Homo sapiens: one gene and its partners. The protein of the gene in region 2 purifies or fractionates together with the protein of the main gene of each other region. This does not show direct contact. Each region holds a gene or a part of one and is shown on either strand. Other genes may lie near its edges. The genes, in order: ATP13A3, ZDHHC9, TPX2 and RSPRY1.

Region 1 (3,782 bases), on a different chromosome or scaffold from region 2:
GGCTAGGTAATAAAGTTGAGAATATTAGGAGATTATTGGTACTGTCTGTCATTCTGAGGGGATACTCAACTACTTTGAGTGTTTTTGTTTTGTTTTTTTAAAGAATAAATTTATTCCTTACTGCTAGCAAGATCTGCATTGTTTTAAAAGAGCGATGTAAATTATTAATGGATTCCATGAAATTTAAAGTATCTAAACTTAAGTATTACTCTGGGGATAGCACAGTAAGAAAACATGAGTATGTAAAAACATGATGGTGGCTAAAAACTTAACAGTCTTATGTCCTGGGAGAGGGCATGGTGTATTGGATAAAAATGTGGGCTTCAGAGCCATAGTGATTTTGAATTACAGCTCTGTCACATACCAGTCTTGTAGTCTGGGTTAAGTAAGTCACTGAACCTCTGAGAGCTTTTTTATTTGCCAGATAGAGGTGATAAAGGGTACCTTAGAGAATTGTAAGGATAAGAGTCTGAGTGAAGGGTAACTTATTATTTGTTAACTTAGTAACATTGAAGATATTCAAAACAAGTCAGATGTGTGTGTGGGGTGTGATTGATGATTGCTCTTTGTTTTTTTGTTAACTGGAACAGCAGGCAATAATGTTATATTCAGGCTTTTTATGTCCAAAACAATCTATGATTTTGTATCTTTAGTAGCAACATCCTCAAAAGCTCAAGATGTTAACCTCATGTATCTCCGATATACATTTTATGTATATTTTAGTTTTTCTCTTTGTGTCTCTGGTGTGTTTGCAGTCTGTTTTCTCTCCCATCTTGTTACTGTTACCCAATGTCTCTGTCTCTGACCACCTTATAAAATTTAAAACTATCTGTAATTGTATTTATTTTATAGGACTTTATATGCATTATTTTCATTTAAAAATTCTGATTAGTCAAATATTTCTACTTTTTTTTTAAAGAAGACTTTGAATTATATTTCAATTTTGTGACCTTTAGATTTCTTTAAACATGGAATCCTAGTCACTGGTTCCTTATAGACCGAAGATTTTTCTTTTTTTTAAATTTTATTTTATTTTACTTTATTTTTTTAGACCAAAGATTTTTCATTCATCTCTAGATCATGCCTTAGCTTCTTAAGTCACCAGTTTTCTAAGCTCATTTACAATTTTCATCTGTAGTTTCCTTGTTTCTCCTTTTTTTAATGTTTATGTTTCTAATTTTCCTAAGCACAAAAGATAGAAACCTATTTAATGCTAATTATAATAAGTAGATTAGTATACTAAGTAAAATGTAAAGTACAATAGGCAAATGACATAATTTTGTCTGTAGCACTTACTTGAAAGACTAGACTAACCTAGCACACGCTTAATTGAAATATTTAATGGGTCTTTTTGATATGAAAATGTACTTTTCATAATTGTCAGCACTGCCTTAGAGTTAGTTGAAGAATAATTTTAAGCTAACCCATGGTTTTCTGTTCAGTGTTTGATGAAGAGAATAGAATAAGCTCATTAATTTAGTCAGATTCAGAAGCATCTTAAAGAGTACCCCCCGCCCCAATCCTTTCTAATCTCTGGTGCGGCCCATAGTGACTCACTATTCTTCATGTTCCCTTAATAGTTGTGGCAATGATAAGTTATTGTAGTGTATAAGAGTTGTGATTTTATAGGTAGCAAGGAAGGGGGCTTGGTTAGGGCCTCTTGGTTATGCCTTTAGGACTGTGTTGGTACTTCTAACTATTTAATAGTGTTTTAGTTCCTGTACATGCCAAACACAGGGCTGGATGCTGGGGAGACATCGATGAATGAGTTCTTCTCTCTTACACATACACAGTCCAGCAGGTAAACACTGTGCTGTTGCATTGCACAAGTCCAGAGGATACCATTCACGTTGTATTCTTCAGGAATATGGCTCCTTGGCCTGGCCTAGGATCTCTTTCAGGTGACAAAAGTTCAGAATCTCCATCACCTACAAGATAATCTGTATTGTTTATCATGTCTAACAAGACCCTTCCTTATAATCTGATCCTGTCCTATCCTTCTAAACCTCCATTTGTAATTATTCCTCAAAGGCTATCACCCCGTGCACCAGTCAGTTTAAATAACTTGTTTTCCTGGCATTTTTTAGGATCTCTCACTATAGTACCTCTGCATGTGGCAGTTCCCCTGCTTGGGTTTCATCTCTCTATTTTCTCCCTAACATTTTTCCTCTTACTGCTTGTTTGCTTGATCAAGTTTACATCCTTCTGGTCTTAGATCAAGAGATAGTTCTTTTTTGAAGTCTTTTCTGTTCTTGGTTCTCTCTTTCTCCCTGGTGCCATTGGTCACCATTTTGTTTGATATTTGTTTGCTTACTTATTTGTCTAGCCTACTAGATGTGGTTCCTTAAGGTTAGAAATTTAATCTTGTAACCTCCAGCATTTAGACCACTAGTTGGCACATGGTAGGCAATACCATTCTAACAAATGAGTTTTTATGAAATCAAATTGGCAATAAACCAGAATGATTATTGCTAGAATGCTAATTTAATATTTACAGATTTATCTGAAAAATTAGGATACTTGACAACATCTTGGTTTTCTGATTTAATTTACCTTTTTCTAGTCAAGCAGTAGTTTGGGGTTAGATTTCAGGGAACTGCTTGGCTAGAGTGAAGACACTGTTTTAAGTTCATTGGTGAACATGTTGGTGAGAACTTTCTGTCTGCTGAAGAATTAACCATAAGTGGTCTCAAACTAAAACAAAGACACAGAGGTATTCAACCCAAGAAGAATGGATGATCTGTAGGATGGTAGTGTCTGCCCCAGCTCTGTCTCTACCTGTAGCACTCACTGCAGCTAATCTGTAGGAGTGGATGAAGTGAGGTGGAAACACTTCTGGGGGGCCCAGTCAGGAAGAGACTCCTAGATGCTTCTGGGCCAGTCTTTCTGTGCGATAGAGTGTCCACTCCCCATATCCTCTCCATACTTCTTTTAAAATTTTGTTTCTTAGTGATTCATCTTAGGTTAACAGCTATGAGAAGCTGTCACTAATTTATGTGTTAACTTCTGAACAGAAGGATCCTGATTAAGAGGAAGAGGAAGGGTTGATCTGAAGAACATAGTGCTGTGGTGGAGGTTGTGTAGAGTTCCATGAGGTCACTAAGGGACCTGGGAACACAGGATATTGGGAGAGCTGGGAAAGGGGAATAGGGATGAGATGCGGGAGCATGCCAAAGACAAAATTACTTTGTTGTCAAATTTTGCCCACAAAAAGAAGAGGGATTCCACCCCTCCTTCACCCAGTCTTGCCCTGTCTCCTTTATTCAGCTGCACTGCTGGATGCTTGCCTGGTTCCCAGCCTTTAAGGTTTTTAGTCTATAAGTTCAACGTTGTTGGAAAAGTGCTCTGATACCTGCAGAGGTGGGAGAAAGGTGGGGGCAGTCCTCTGCTAGGAGATGGAAGGGACAATCAAAGCTTAGTAGCTTGAGCTGGTCCTGGAAGAGCAAGTAGGAGCTCTTTAGCCAGACTAAGAGAAGGGCATTCTTGGCAGAAGGAATATTCTATATAAAGAAGTGGAGTCAGGGAACAGTAGGGCTCTTTGAAGAACTACAGATTGTGTTCTAAATGAATGACATGTAAGGTTTGTAAGGGGCGAGTGATAACCACTGATGAATGGCAGATGGTGTTGACAACTAGGCGGGGCCAGAGTCTGTAGGATCTTACATGTCTTGCAATCAGTTTTGACTTTGACCTTGGAACCCAGTTGAGGCTCCCTTCCGCCCCAGTTCCTCATGGCAGGGAAATACATCATGTTGTGCGTTGTAAGACTTCAAAACTTTGCT
Region 2 (3,782 bases):
GAATATGGGCGGAGGCATCAAGTCTCCTGATGTTGAGTTCTTCAATACTCCTTAACCACACCTCACTGTTCTAGAAGTCCTCATTTGCTTCTTTACACTCTGGTCCGTCGTGGGACTGACTGGATTTCATACTTTCCTCGTGGCTCTCAACCAGACAACCAATGAAGACGTGAGTCAACTTTCTCTTCTCCTCACCACATATTCTTCTTCCCAAAGCCTATCCTCTTGCTACCTGCTAGAGAACTACCGAGTCTCCAGGGCCTGGGAGGTTGAGGCAGGCAGAAACGTGGTATGCGAGGTTGTTAAGTCAGATGTGTGGAAGAGAAAGGAGAGGGCTTTGTTGAATGCTTGTGGAGCATTAGGAAGAAGAGGTTGAAAAGTTGGGTGGGTATACAGCCTTTAACTGTTCACAGGTCCTTAAAGGCTAGCTGGTGCCTCTGTTTGGCATGGAGAGGGACAGTTGCACTGGATGAATCCTTGCTATATAAAAAGTTACCAATTAGGCTGGGTGTGGTGGCTCACGCCTGTAATCCCAGCACTTTGGGAGGCTGAGGCGGGCGGATCACCTGAAGTCAAGAGTTCAAGACCAGCCTGGCCAACATGGCAAAACCCTGTCTCTACTAAAAATACAAAAATATAGCCGGATGTGTTAGTGTGCACCTGTAGTCCCAGCTACTCGGGAGGCTGAGGCAGGAGAATCACTTGAACCCGGGAGGTGGAGGTTGCAGCGAGCAAAGATCACGCCACTGCACTCCAGCCTGGACAACAGAATGAGACTCTGTCTGGAAAAAAAAAAAAAAAGTTAGCAATTAATCTACATTCACTGTAGAAAATCAGAAAATACAGATGAGCAAAAAGAAAAAAGTAAGTTCCTCTTACTTTACTTCTTAGACATCACCTTTGTTAGTAGTATGATTTATATATTCTAGACTTGTCTAGACTTTTTTCCATGTTTATTTATGTGTTTATATTATGTACTTTTAAATAAAAATAGTATATATCATTCAGTTATCTGCTTTTTTCACTCTATTGTGAGTATTTTTCATGGCTGTGTATGTATTTCTTTTTTGTTGTGATAAAATATACATGATATAAAGTGTGCTATATTAAATGTCTTTCAACCCTGGCGATCAATGGGGTGACAGTTGTTGCAGCCAGATCGCCCTCATATCCTAAATGTACAGTTCAGTGGCATCACATTGTTGTGCAACCATTGCCACCATCCATTTCCAGAACTTTTTTATTATCCCATGCTGCATGTGTTTCTTCAACATTATTATTATTATTTTTCTTTTTTGTGTCTGTTTTTAATTTTATTATTATTATTTGTTCATTTTAACATTATTTTTAATGTCAGCCTTGGTTTTTATCTTGCAGATCAAAGGATCATGGACAGGGAAGAATCGCGTCCAGAATCCCTACAGCCATGGCAATATTGTGAAGAACTGCTGTGAAGTGCTGTGTGGCCCCTTGCCCCCCAGGTGCTCAGGGCACTCAAAAGTCCTGGGACTGTTGGGATGAGCAGCTCAACCTGATCCTGTTACCTTGTCTGATGTGTTTTTCTGAGTGTGGCCTCTTGGTGTCAAATAGGTCTTTCCAGGGCTTGCCACTTGGTACCATGTCTACATGGACCATAGACCATGGGCTGGTTGTTTTGGAGGGATGATCTTTCATTCTTAATTTCATTTGTTTGTTCCCTGGTTAATGTGACATTTCCTGGTTTGTGGAAGAAAAAGTGAATGGGAGATAAGAGGCATGTGCTGTGTTCAGGCTAGATTGCCAAAGGACAGGTTTATATTTTCCAGTCTATGCAGCAAAATTCCGTAGGCCAGGTGGGTGGAGGGGTGAATGCCCAGTTCTTTGTTAACTCTCTTATCTCCTTCAGTGTGCTGGATCGAAGGGGTATTTTGCCACTGGAGGAAAGTGGAAGTCGACCTCCCAGTACTCAAGAGACCAGTAGCAGCCTCTTGCCACAGAGCCCAGTAAGTGTTCCTGACTTAAGGCTGGGTCGATATAGAGAGGGCGGAGGCTAATTTACAGCTTGGAAATATAATTAGGCAATATTGTATTCTAATCACCCCAGCTTCCCTGCCTCTACACCTGCCCTGATGTTGCCTTCAGATCTTTGTGTCCTTGATGTAGATTAAGATTTAGTCATTTCTTTGGTGTATATTGAGTGACTCTGTGCCAGCCACTGTACTAGCTGCCAGGGTTATACCAATGAATGAGGCAAACGATGTCCCTGCTCTCAAGGAGCTCATTGTCTAGTGGGGGCAAGAAACAAGTAAACAGGCCATTGCTCAACATTGTGAAAAGTGCCTTGATGAGGAAAGCATAAAATGCTATAGGGGCAAAGACAGAGGTCAGGGGATTGTATTAGAGTTAGTGATGTGGTTACTGTGGTAGAAGGGGGCTTCCTAACTGGAATATGCAAAAGTTGTGGAAACTCTCCCAGCTGTCCTATTTAAGATATATAAAGTATATCTTTAAAGTATATAAAGTACTTTCCTAAAAAAAAATATTACTTGAGCTTTTTTTTTTGAGATGGAGTTTTGCTCTGTCACCCAGGCTGGAGTGCAGTGGTGTGATCTCGGCTCATTGCAACTCCACCTCCCAGGTTCAAGCAATTCTCTGCCTCAGCCTCCGAGTAGCTGGGATTACAGGCGCCCGCCACCATGCCTGGCTAATTTTTGTATTTTCACTAGAGACAGGGTTTCACCATCCTGGCCAGGATGGTCTGCATCTCCTGACCTCGTGATCCTCCCGCCTCAGCCTCCCAAAGTGTTGGGATTACAGGCGTGAGCCACCGTGCCCAGCTGAGCTTTCTTTTTTTAATAAGAACTTTATTGAGATATGATTCACATACCATAGGTCCCAATTTTTTTTTTTTTTTTTTTTGAGACGGAGTCTCGCTCTGTCACCCAGGCTGGAGTGCGGTGGTGCAATCTCAGCTCACTGCAACCTCCGCCTCCCGGGTTCTCCTGCCTCAGCCTCCTGAGTAGCTGGGATTACAGGCATGTGCCACCACGCCCAGCTAATTTTGTATTTTTTAGTAGAGACGGGGTTTCTCCATGTTGGTCAGGCTGGTCTCGAACTTCTGACCTCAGATGATCTGCCCACCTCAGCCTCCCAAAGTAGAGGATTACAGGCGTGAGCCACTGCGCCCAACTGATCCCTATTTAAAATGTATGATTCACTGGTCTAGAATATTCACAGAGTTGTACAATCATTATAACAATCAATTTTAGAGCATTTTCGTTACCCTTCCACCCTAAGAAACCCTGTAGCCATTAGCAGTCACTCTCCCTTTCCCCTGAACTTCCCCAGCCACACCCCTAGGCAACCACTAATCTACTTCCTTTTAGTACAGATTTCTCTCTTCTGGGTATTTCATGTAAATGAAATCATACAATATGTGGTCTTTTGTGACTGGCTTCTTTTACTTAGCATGTTTTCGAGGTTTGTCCATGTTGTACTATGTAGCAGTACTTCGTTCCTTTATATGGCCAAATGATATTCCATTATATGGATATACCACATTTCATTTATCCATTCATCAGTTGATGGACATTTGGATTGTTTCCACCATTTGATTATTATGAGTGATGCTGCTATGAACATTTGTGTACCAATTTTTGCATGGCCATATATTTTCATTTCTCTTGGCTATATACCTGGGAGTAAAATAGCTAGGTCACATGGTAGCTCTATGTTTAACCTTTAAGGTACTGCTGAACTGTTTTCCAAAGTGGCTGCACCATTTTATACCCCCACTAGCAGTG
Region 3 (4,293 bases), on a different chromosome or scaffold from region 2:
ACTTGGGAGGCTGAGGCAGAATCGTTTGAACCCAGGAGGCGGGAGGCTGCAGTGAGCAGAGATTGTGCCACTGCTCTCCAGCCTAGGTGACAGAGCGAGACTCCATCTCAAAAAAAAAATTTAACTTGAGCTGAGTCTTTAGGGAAGAAGGTACAGTCTGTGTGAAGGCATAACATACATGATTAAGTGGTTACTGAGAGAGAGTTAACAGAATATGGAGATATTCTGACATAAGACAGAAAAAAATTACAAAGTACTGTCCTGGGCCGGGCATGGTGGCTCACGCCTGTAATCCCAGCACTTTGGGAGGCCGAGGCGGGTGGATCACAAGGTCAGGAGATCGAGACCATCCTGGCTAACACGGTGAAACCCTGTCTCTACTTAAAATACAAAAAAAATAATTAGCCGGGAATGATGGCGGGCGCCTGTAATCCCAGCTACTCGGGAGGCTGAGGCAGGAGAATGGCGTGAACCCAGGAGGCAGAGCTTACAGTGAGAAGAGATCGCACCACTGCACTCCAGCCTGGGCGACAGAGCGAGACTCCATCTCAAAAAAAAAAAGTTCCTGGACCCACCTCTCAAACTACCCATTTCCCAATAAGATGTGACCTCCAAAGGGGCTTAACAGATTTAAAAACATCAAATAACACAATCAGGGAGGGAAAGACAAAACGTATTTATTCCAGGCCAGGTCTTAAAATGCACACTGCACGGTTCCCTGTTGTTATCAGCACCAGTAAGGAAAGAACGTGCCTTAACGGCAGCCCCACCCAGAGCCTGCTGCGTGGCTGCTGTGAGGCTCCCCATGAATCCACGCAGTCTTCTTCCTCACTGGTGCAGTTGGTGAGGTTTTCTACCCTCACAGCAAAGGGATCCTTAACTATAAATTCACGGTATGCAGAGAAGAGGACAGAATCTGATTTACTGATTGTTCCTCATTTAAACCATGACTTAATCTCTATCTTAGGATTTAACTATCTTTATTTTCTGGTTAAAATTTTTAAAAAAAGTGGGGAGAGGGTGAGAGTCGTAAGGGGCAATAGCAATAGAGATTACACTGTGCTGACACAGAGACTAAATTCTAGTCAGAGTGAAGACCCATATAAAAGGCCGGCTGATGGTTTAAAGGAAGTAACTACATGGAGTCTAATCGAGACATTCATGAGTTACATCTCATTATTAGCCTTAGTAATGTAAGAAAACAATTCTCAACAAAACTGGAGTCCACAGTTGTCAAGTATGCTTTCTCAGGCACGGGTAGGTAAAAGTCTGGAGAAATGGGTTCTCTCCATGCCCAATGACAAAGCAAGACGGTCCTAGGTTTGAGGTTAAGAGCAGGTCCCATTGCCGGGCGGTATCCGCAGCTCACAGCTGAGTTTAGCAGTGGAATCGAGTGGAGAATTTGGGAGATACAGGCACAGTCAGAGGCTGGTCACTTGACTTTATCTCCAGACCCTGGTACTTGCGTATTGGATTTGCCTTATGCACCTGCAAAGTAAGGAAAAGTTACCAGTGAGAGGGATGTCAGAGAACTACGCTTATAATTGCTTTTATTTTTTTCTTTTTGAGAAAATGTTTGTAGAGTTTTACAGGTCCCAGTCACTAGTTTCAGGTGTGGGGAGTGGGGCCTGGGGGGCAACACGGTATGATGGAAAAGTGTATGTGCTTTGGAGCCCAAAAGGGTTTCTATTCAGGTCTCTATTGGGTCCCCCAGCTTTCCTTTAGGCCACAGTCTCCTCAAGTCCCTCAGCTTTCACTAAAGAATGCCAAACCTATGTCCTGTGTGATTTACTAGGGTATAATAGGGCTGTACTCAAGTATAGCAGAGAAGTTACAAGCTAAGAATTTCCCAGAGTACAGTCTTAAGTTTACTGACTATAAATATTCACCAAAAGCCTGAATCCTGGGGAAAAAGCAAAAACAAAACACAACAACCATACCAGGAAGGGTGGCTAAAGAAGGCATGGTCCCATCCATCCTTTAGGGTAGTCTAAAATCAATCCTAAATCAAGCCAGATTAGTAGAGAGTTAACCAGCATTGACTGAATTGTGCTTTACAATGTTGCCATCAGTTATGTTGAGAATTGCTGCAAGAAGCAGTTCTATAATGGGGACAAACACAAGAGGCAGGTACCAAATGCTAAAGAAAAATCAAAGTTGAGGCCGGGAAAAAAGGCTGATTGTATGAGTGTATATAGAGTGGGGATTATACTATTTTCTCATTCACTCAGCAAATGGTAGTCTAGATTTTACCAAGAGGCTGGTCTCCTAAATAGTGTGTCCGTGGAACCTTCCTATGGGCATAATCACCTATGCCAATAGCTGCCAATAGCTGTTTCAACTGCTAGTCTAGCATTTTATTTATTTATTTAAAATAGAGATGGGACTTTGCTATGTTGCCCACGCTTTTCTTGAACTCCTGGGCTCACGCAATCCTCCCACCTTGGCCTCCCAAAGTGTGAGGATTACAGGTGTGAGCTGCCACATCCAGCTGTAGTATAGCACTTTTAGACAAAACCTCAACAACTTACACTTCTTTTTTTTTTTTTTTTTTTTTTTTGAGACAGTCTCGCTCTGTCACCCCCAGGCTGGACTGCAGTGGCACAATCGGCTCACTGCAACCTGGGCCTCCCAGGTTCAAGCAATTCTCCTGCCTCAGCCTCCCGAGTAGCTGGGATTACAGGTGCGTGCCACCATGCCCGGCTAATTTTTGTATTTTTAGTAGAGACAGAGTTTCGCCATTTTGGCCAGGCTGGTCTCCAACTCCTGACCTCAAGTGATCCACCCACCTGGGCCTCCCATAGTGCTGGGATTACAGGTGTGAGCCACCATTCCTGGCCTTCTTTCTTTTTAATTGACAGATAACACTGTATATTTTTATTGTGTACCGCTGATGTTTTAAAGTAGACATACATTATGGAATGGTTACTATGTGAGATAATGCATTTGTTAATTAGCAAGATGCTAATTAACATTGTAGTGTGAGCACATAACATCCACTTATTGTAGTGTGAGCACATAACATCCACTTTCTTTACAGTTTTCAAGAATACAATATATCATTAACTACAGTCACCTTGTTATATGATAGATCTCTTGAAATTTACTCCTCCCATCTAACTGTAACTAAGTAACCTTTTACCAACATCTCCCCATGACCCTTTCTTTTTTTATTTATCATACGAAGTTCCATCTAAAACTGTCTGCTTCTTCATTAACACAGTTAACACAACTTGCTGCCCTCCTAGCAGATTGGTCCTTAATGTGGAGTTCAGGTTTCTTTTTGGATAACCAACATCTAAATAATTATGTTAGTAGAGGATTACCTGGAGCGACGAACACTGTAACTCCAAGGAGTTTGGGCTCAGTATTAAAACAAAAATACAGTTGCCATTTAATTCCCATGTCCTTCGCTATGTATTCTTGTCTAATTACAAAACTCAGTGGTGCTTCTTAACCCCAGAGGAAATAATAAGTTACATAAATAAAATAAACAAATAAATAAAAAACAGTCCTAGGAAAGGCATCATGGTTATACCACATGTTGTCCTCCTTATGAAAACTTCCGGAAGAAATTCTGTCTAAAAATTCACTATCAAAGGGATAAATGTATTTTTTGAACAACTGTCTTATGTCTCATGAACACTGCGAGTTTTGTAACTGACAGGTTGGTTCCTAAAAAGGGCCAAAATTACAGCTCCTACTTAGATCACAATGTACACATCGTTAGCTTCATTCACAACTCAACTTCATCACCACCCTCAGTTTGTGCAATTCCCCCTTTCACTCATTGTCTTTGGTACAGCCTTGCGGGCTACCTTAGATCCTGTCTGGTACAAGGTAAGGTACAGGTAAAATAAAACAGAGGCATGTTTGTGTTCGTCAGTGCTCATGCTCCCAGTTACCAGTTCTCTCCGTAGCCTGGCCAGCTCCTCTTTTTTCTGCTCTTCCTCCTGTAGTCTGGCCTCCTCCAACTGCTGGGCTTTCTGGGCTTCTACCTCAGCCATTCTCTTCTCCAGCTCCTGCCGCTCTTTGGCTCTCTTCTCAGTAGCCAGCTGAAAAGGTTCCTGAACTAGAGAACCAGAAAGGCCCTCTAAGTACAGAAACAGAAAAAATATTGGTGCACAAGCAGGACTTGCATAAACCTACGCCCCCTGGAATGAGCAAGTGGCACAGACATGCACACTAACAGGAAGACTGTGCTCTAAACAAGCCCCATTGGGAGAAAGGTAGAGCCAACTAAATACAAAAAGTTTTAGAATTTTAAGAGTTCAAAGGGCCCCTGGAAATCGT
Region 4 (3,782 bases), on a different chromosome or scaffold from region 2:
GAGTAATATTTCTCTTCTAATTCCACTGAATTATAAATTTTGTTTATATTATTCCTGGTCAGTGCTCAAGGTATGAGGAATTAATTGTAACTAGCCAGATGTTGTGTAGAGACTACACACTAGCATAGTCTATTCCTTATGTGGCCTGTTCTCCAGCTGTCAGCCTGTTTTGTTTGTTTGTTTGTTTTTTTACTTTTTGCTACCAGCCCATGTAAGTCTCCTATTTCTAAATCTTTACTTCCTTCCAGAATCTAACCAGATTTTACCAGCTTCTTGAAGAGCTGGTTCTTTCATTAGGTTTTTAATGATAAACATACTTTGTGGGATGAGAATGGCCATCCATGAATTCCTGGAGGGCAGGAACTATTCCTTACTCATCTTTATTCTCCTAGTCCAGCGTGGTACCTGGCACAAGGTCCTTAGTCAGTATTTTCAGGCAAAGATAAATTGGTGCATCTTATTCTGAACTTTGTAATAGACATGTGCAACAAACTGATCATTGTGAAAATACAACTTTTGTGATATCAGTTTTCCTTTCCCAAAACAAAGCCTTGCTTACATAACAGAAACACTTTGCAACAACTTGTATGAATTCTGTCAGTTCTTGAGTGAGCTTCCAATGGGAAACTCTATCCTTTTATTCTCCTTGATATCAAATGGTGCTATCATATTTGTATCATAACTTTTTTTTAACAACAAACGTCTGTAATTATTTTATTTAAAACTTGTTAAATTATCCTATGGGTTTAAAGAAAGGAGTTAATTCATTTTTTTAAAGATTTTTCTCTTTTTAACACCTACCTCTTACACAGAAAGACAACTCTTTTTTTATGATAAAAGGAGCCCTTGAAAAAAAATGCACACATCCTTCTAATGTATTTCTATATAGACAGGAAAAACTATACATGTGGTTTTAAAAAAATCAATGATAACTCCTCTGGTCTATAAGAATATGGTTTGGCAATCAACTTTGTAACAGAATGATAAAAAGAAATTATTGATTGATTGCGAATTCTGTTATCCAAAGCTATCTCTTTGTATTGGAAACCTATAAAAATAACCAAAGATAATTCTTCATTAGAATCCTAATATCTATAAAATCAGACTAGGAAAATTTGAGTAATTAAGTGGTCAAGAATCTTTTATTCATTTTCCTTTTTCTCATTTTCTTTTAGAACTGCCATTGGATGTCCAGAATCCCCTGTAGTTGATAATGTTGGGAATAAGCTCTGCAACTTTCTTTGGCATTCAGTTGTTAAAAACAAATAGGATGCAAATTCCTCAACTCCAGGTTATGAAAACAGTACTTGGAAAACTGAAAACTACCTAAATGATCGTCTTTGGTTGGGCCGTGTTCTTAGCGAGCAGAAGCCTTGGCCAGGGTCTGTTGTTGACTCTCGAAGAGCACATAGCCCACTTCCTAGGGACTGGAGGTGCCGCTACTACCATGGGTAATTCCTGTATCTGCCGAGATGACAGTGGAACAGATGACAGTGTTGACACCCAACAGCAACAGGCCGAGAACAGTGCAGTACCCACTGCTGACACAAGGAGCCAACCACGGGACCCTGTTCGGCCACCAAGGAGGGGCCGAGGACCTCATGAGCCAAGGAGAAAGAAACAAAATGTGGATGGGCTAGTGTTGGACACACTGGCAGTAATACGGACTCTTGTAGATAAGTAAGTATCTGACTCACGGTCACCTCCAGTGGAATGAAAAGTGTTCTGCCCGGAACCATGACTTTAGGACTCCTTCAGTTCCTTTAGGACATACTCGCCAAGCCTTGTGCTCACAGGGCAAAGGAGAATATTTTAATGCTCCGCTGATGGCAGAGTAAATGATAAGATTTGATGTTTTTGCTTGCTGTCATCTACTTTGTCTGGAAATGTCTAAATGTTTCTGTAGCAGAAAACACGATAAAGCTATGATCTTTATTAGAGAATAGAGTAAATATGGAGTGAGTTTATGTTGCTAGCTACAATAGGAAATGGTTTCATGAAGGCTCACTGTTAATGGTACATGCCTGTCTATTCCACTGACCTCAGATTCAAGGTAAGTTGTTTTACCAAGAACATGGCTACAGGCAACTTCTCTTGGCAACATAAGGACTAAGGTCAAGGAGAGTTTTCATTATCCTTTATTTGATCCTTTATCCCTTATTTGACTATCTTTAATCCATTTAGGAAGCTTGTCAGTTGATACTGCAAGGCACACCTGTACCTGTTTTGTCTTTTCCTCTGCTTTGTCTACCTCTAAATACAAAATCATAGATTGAATAACAGTGAAATTAAAGGGCATCCAAGTAGAAAAAAACATTTAACTTAAGGTTGTATATTTCAGTAGTTAAGAGCACAAAGCTTAGAACCATGATGGGCCTAGCTCAAGTTCTGGCCCAGTGCCTTACTAACTGCATGACATTGGGTAAGTTACTTCTTGAAGCCTCAGATTCCTCATCTGTAAATGGGGGGATAATATTGTTCCCACAAGGATTATCATGAGATAATGTACATAAGGCATTCAGTGTGGAGCTTTGTACTTAACAGTTGCTCAGTAGATGGTAGTATTTTTTAAAAAGTTACTTATGTGTTCTTTTTGCTTCAGGCCCTGCTAGTAAATTTAAGTATATAAACATTTGATAATCGCATTTATAGAAACCCAGTTTCGTTTAGTTCCTCAAAAATTAAGCATAAAACAGAGTGTACCTGTGAATACAAACGAATTTTTAGAGCTGTATTAAACTTTTCCATAAAATACTGGAGCATTTGTTAGTCTTCGAGAAGAATAATTTTTTGGCCAGACACAATGGCTCATACCTGTAATTCCAACACTTTTGAGAGGCTGAGGTAGAAAGATAGCTGGAGGCCAGGAGTTCAAGACCAGCCTAGGCAACATAGGGAGATCCCATCTCTGCAAAAAAAATTTAAAAATTATCCAGGTACAGTGGCACTTGCCTGTGATCCCAGCTACTCAGGATTCTAAGACCGGAGTACTGCTAGAGTCCAGGAGTTTCCAGCTGCAGTGAGCTATGATCACACCACTGCACTCCAGCCTGGGCAATAGAGCAAGACCCTGTCTCAAAAATTAATTAATCAAAAAAAATTTTTTAAATCCCTTGTACCAAATTGTAATAAAAGTTATCCTTCCCAAATAAGGAAGTAAACCACAAACAATGTTAATTTAAGCTCATTGGAAAAATGGGTGCAGAATAGACTTTGAGAGAGAGAGTTTTTTTGTTTTGTTTTGTTTTTAAAGAGACAGGGTCTCACTTTGTCACCCAGGCTGGCGTACAGTGGCGTGATCATGACTCACTGCAGCCTCAGCCTCCTGGACTCAAACCATCCTCCCACCTCAGCCTCCTAAGTAGCTTGGACTACAGGCGTGTGCTACTGCACCTGGCTAATTTTTAAAAAAGTTTTTGTAGAGCCAGGTCTTGCCATGTTGCCCAGGCTGGTCTCAAATACCTGGACTCAAGCGATTGTCGAGCTTCAGCCTCCTTAAGTGCTGGGATTGCAGATGTGAGCCCCCACGCTTGGCCCCTTGCAATATTTTAAAAGAGAGTGACATAGTTATACAAACCTCTTTGTTTTTAACTTTTCTCAACATCGAAATCTGTGTTACTGTATATAAATCTACAACTGCTTCTGACTATTACAGAGTATTCCCTTGTATGCCTGAAAGTATTATATTTTGTTACATTTTCATCTGGTGATGGTCACTTAGGTTACTGCCAAATTTTTGTTCTTACAAACAGCACTGCAGTGAACAGCGCAAATATGCATTG

The links.
Region 1: the proteins of ZDHHC9 (region 2) and ATP13A3 purify together in Homo sapiens (co-immunoprecipitation; one large-scale study listed by IntAct). This does not show direct contact.
Region 3: the proteins of ZDHHC9 (region 2) and TPX2 purify together in Homo sapiens (co-immunoprecipitation; one large-scale study listed by IntAct). This does not show direct contact.
Region 4: the proteins of ZDHHC9 (region 2) and RSPRY1 purify together in Homo sapiens (co-immunoprecipitation; one large-scale study listed by IntAct). This does not show direct contact.

The regions. Positions count from the first base shown.
Region 1 is NC_000003.12:194,476,832-194,480,613, reverse strand, and holds part of ATP13A3 (polyamine-transporting ATPase 13A3), read left to right. Parts: intron 1-3,782. UniProt on the Homo sapiens protein: ATP-driven pump involved in endocytosis-dependent polyamine transport. Uses ATP as an energy source to transfer polyamine precursor putrescine from the endosomal compartment to the cytosol.
Region 2 is NC_000023.11:129,809,105-129,812,886, reverse strand, and holds part of ZDHHC9 (palmitoyltransferase ZDHHC9), read left to right. Parts: exon of another isoform or gene 1-66; coding exon 67-169; intron 170-1,377; coding exon 1,378-1,481; intron 1,482-1,885; coding exon 1,886-1,982; intron 1,983-3,782. UniProt on the Homo sapiens protein: Palmitoyltransferase that catalyzes the addition of palmitate onto various protein substrates, such as ADRB2, GSDMD, HRAS, NRAS and CGAS. The ZDHHC9-GOLGA7 complex is a palmitoyltransferase specific for HRAS and NRAS.
Region 3 is NC_000020.11:31,798,165-31,802,457, reverse strand, and holds the end of TPX2 (targeting protein for Xklp2), read right to left. Parts: intron 4,094-4,293; coding exon 3,906-4,093; intron 1,489-3,905; coding exon 1,378-1,488; 3' UTR 658-1,377; downstream 1-657. UniProt on the Homo sapiens protein: Spindle assembly factor required for normal assembly of mitotic spindles. Required for normal assembly of microtubules during apoptosis. Required for chromatin and/or kinetochore dependent microtubule nucleation.
Region 4 is NC_000016.10:57,203,329-57,207,110, forward strand, and holds part of RSPRY1 (RING finger and SPRY domain-containing protein 1 isoform 1 precursor), read left to right. Parts: intron 1-1,175; 5' UTR 1,176-1,330; coding exon 1,331-1,680; coding exon of another isoform or gene 1,681-1,684; exon of another isoform or gene 1,685-2,053; intron 2,054-3,782.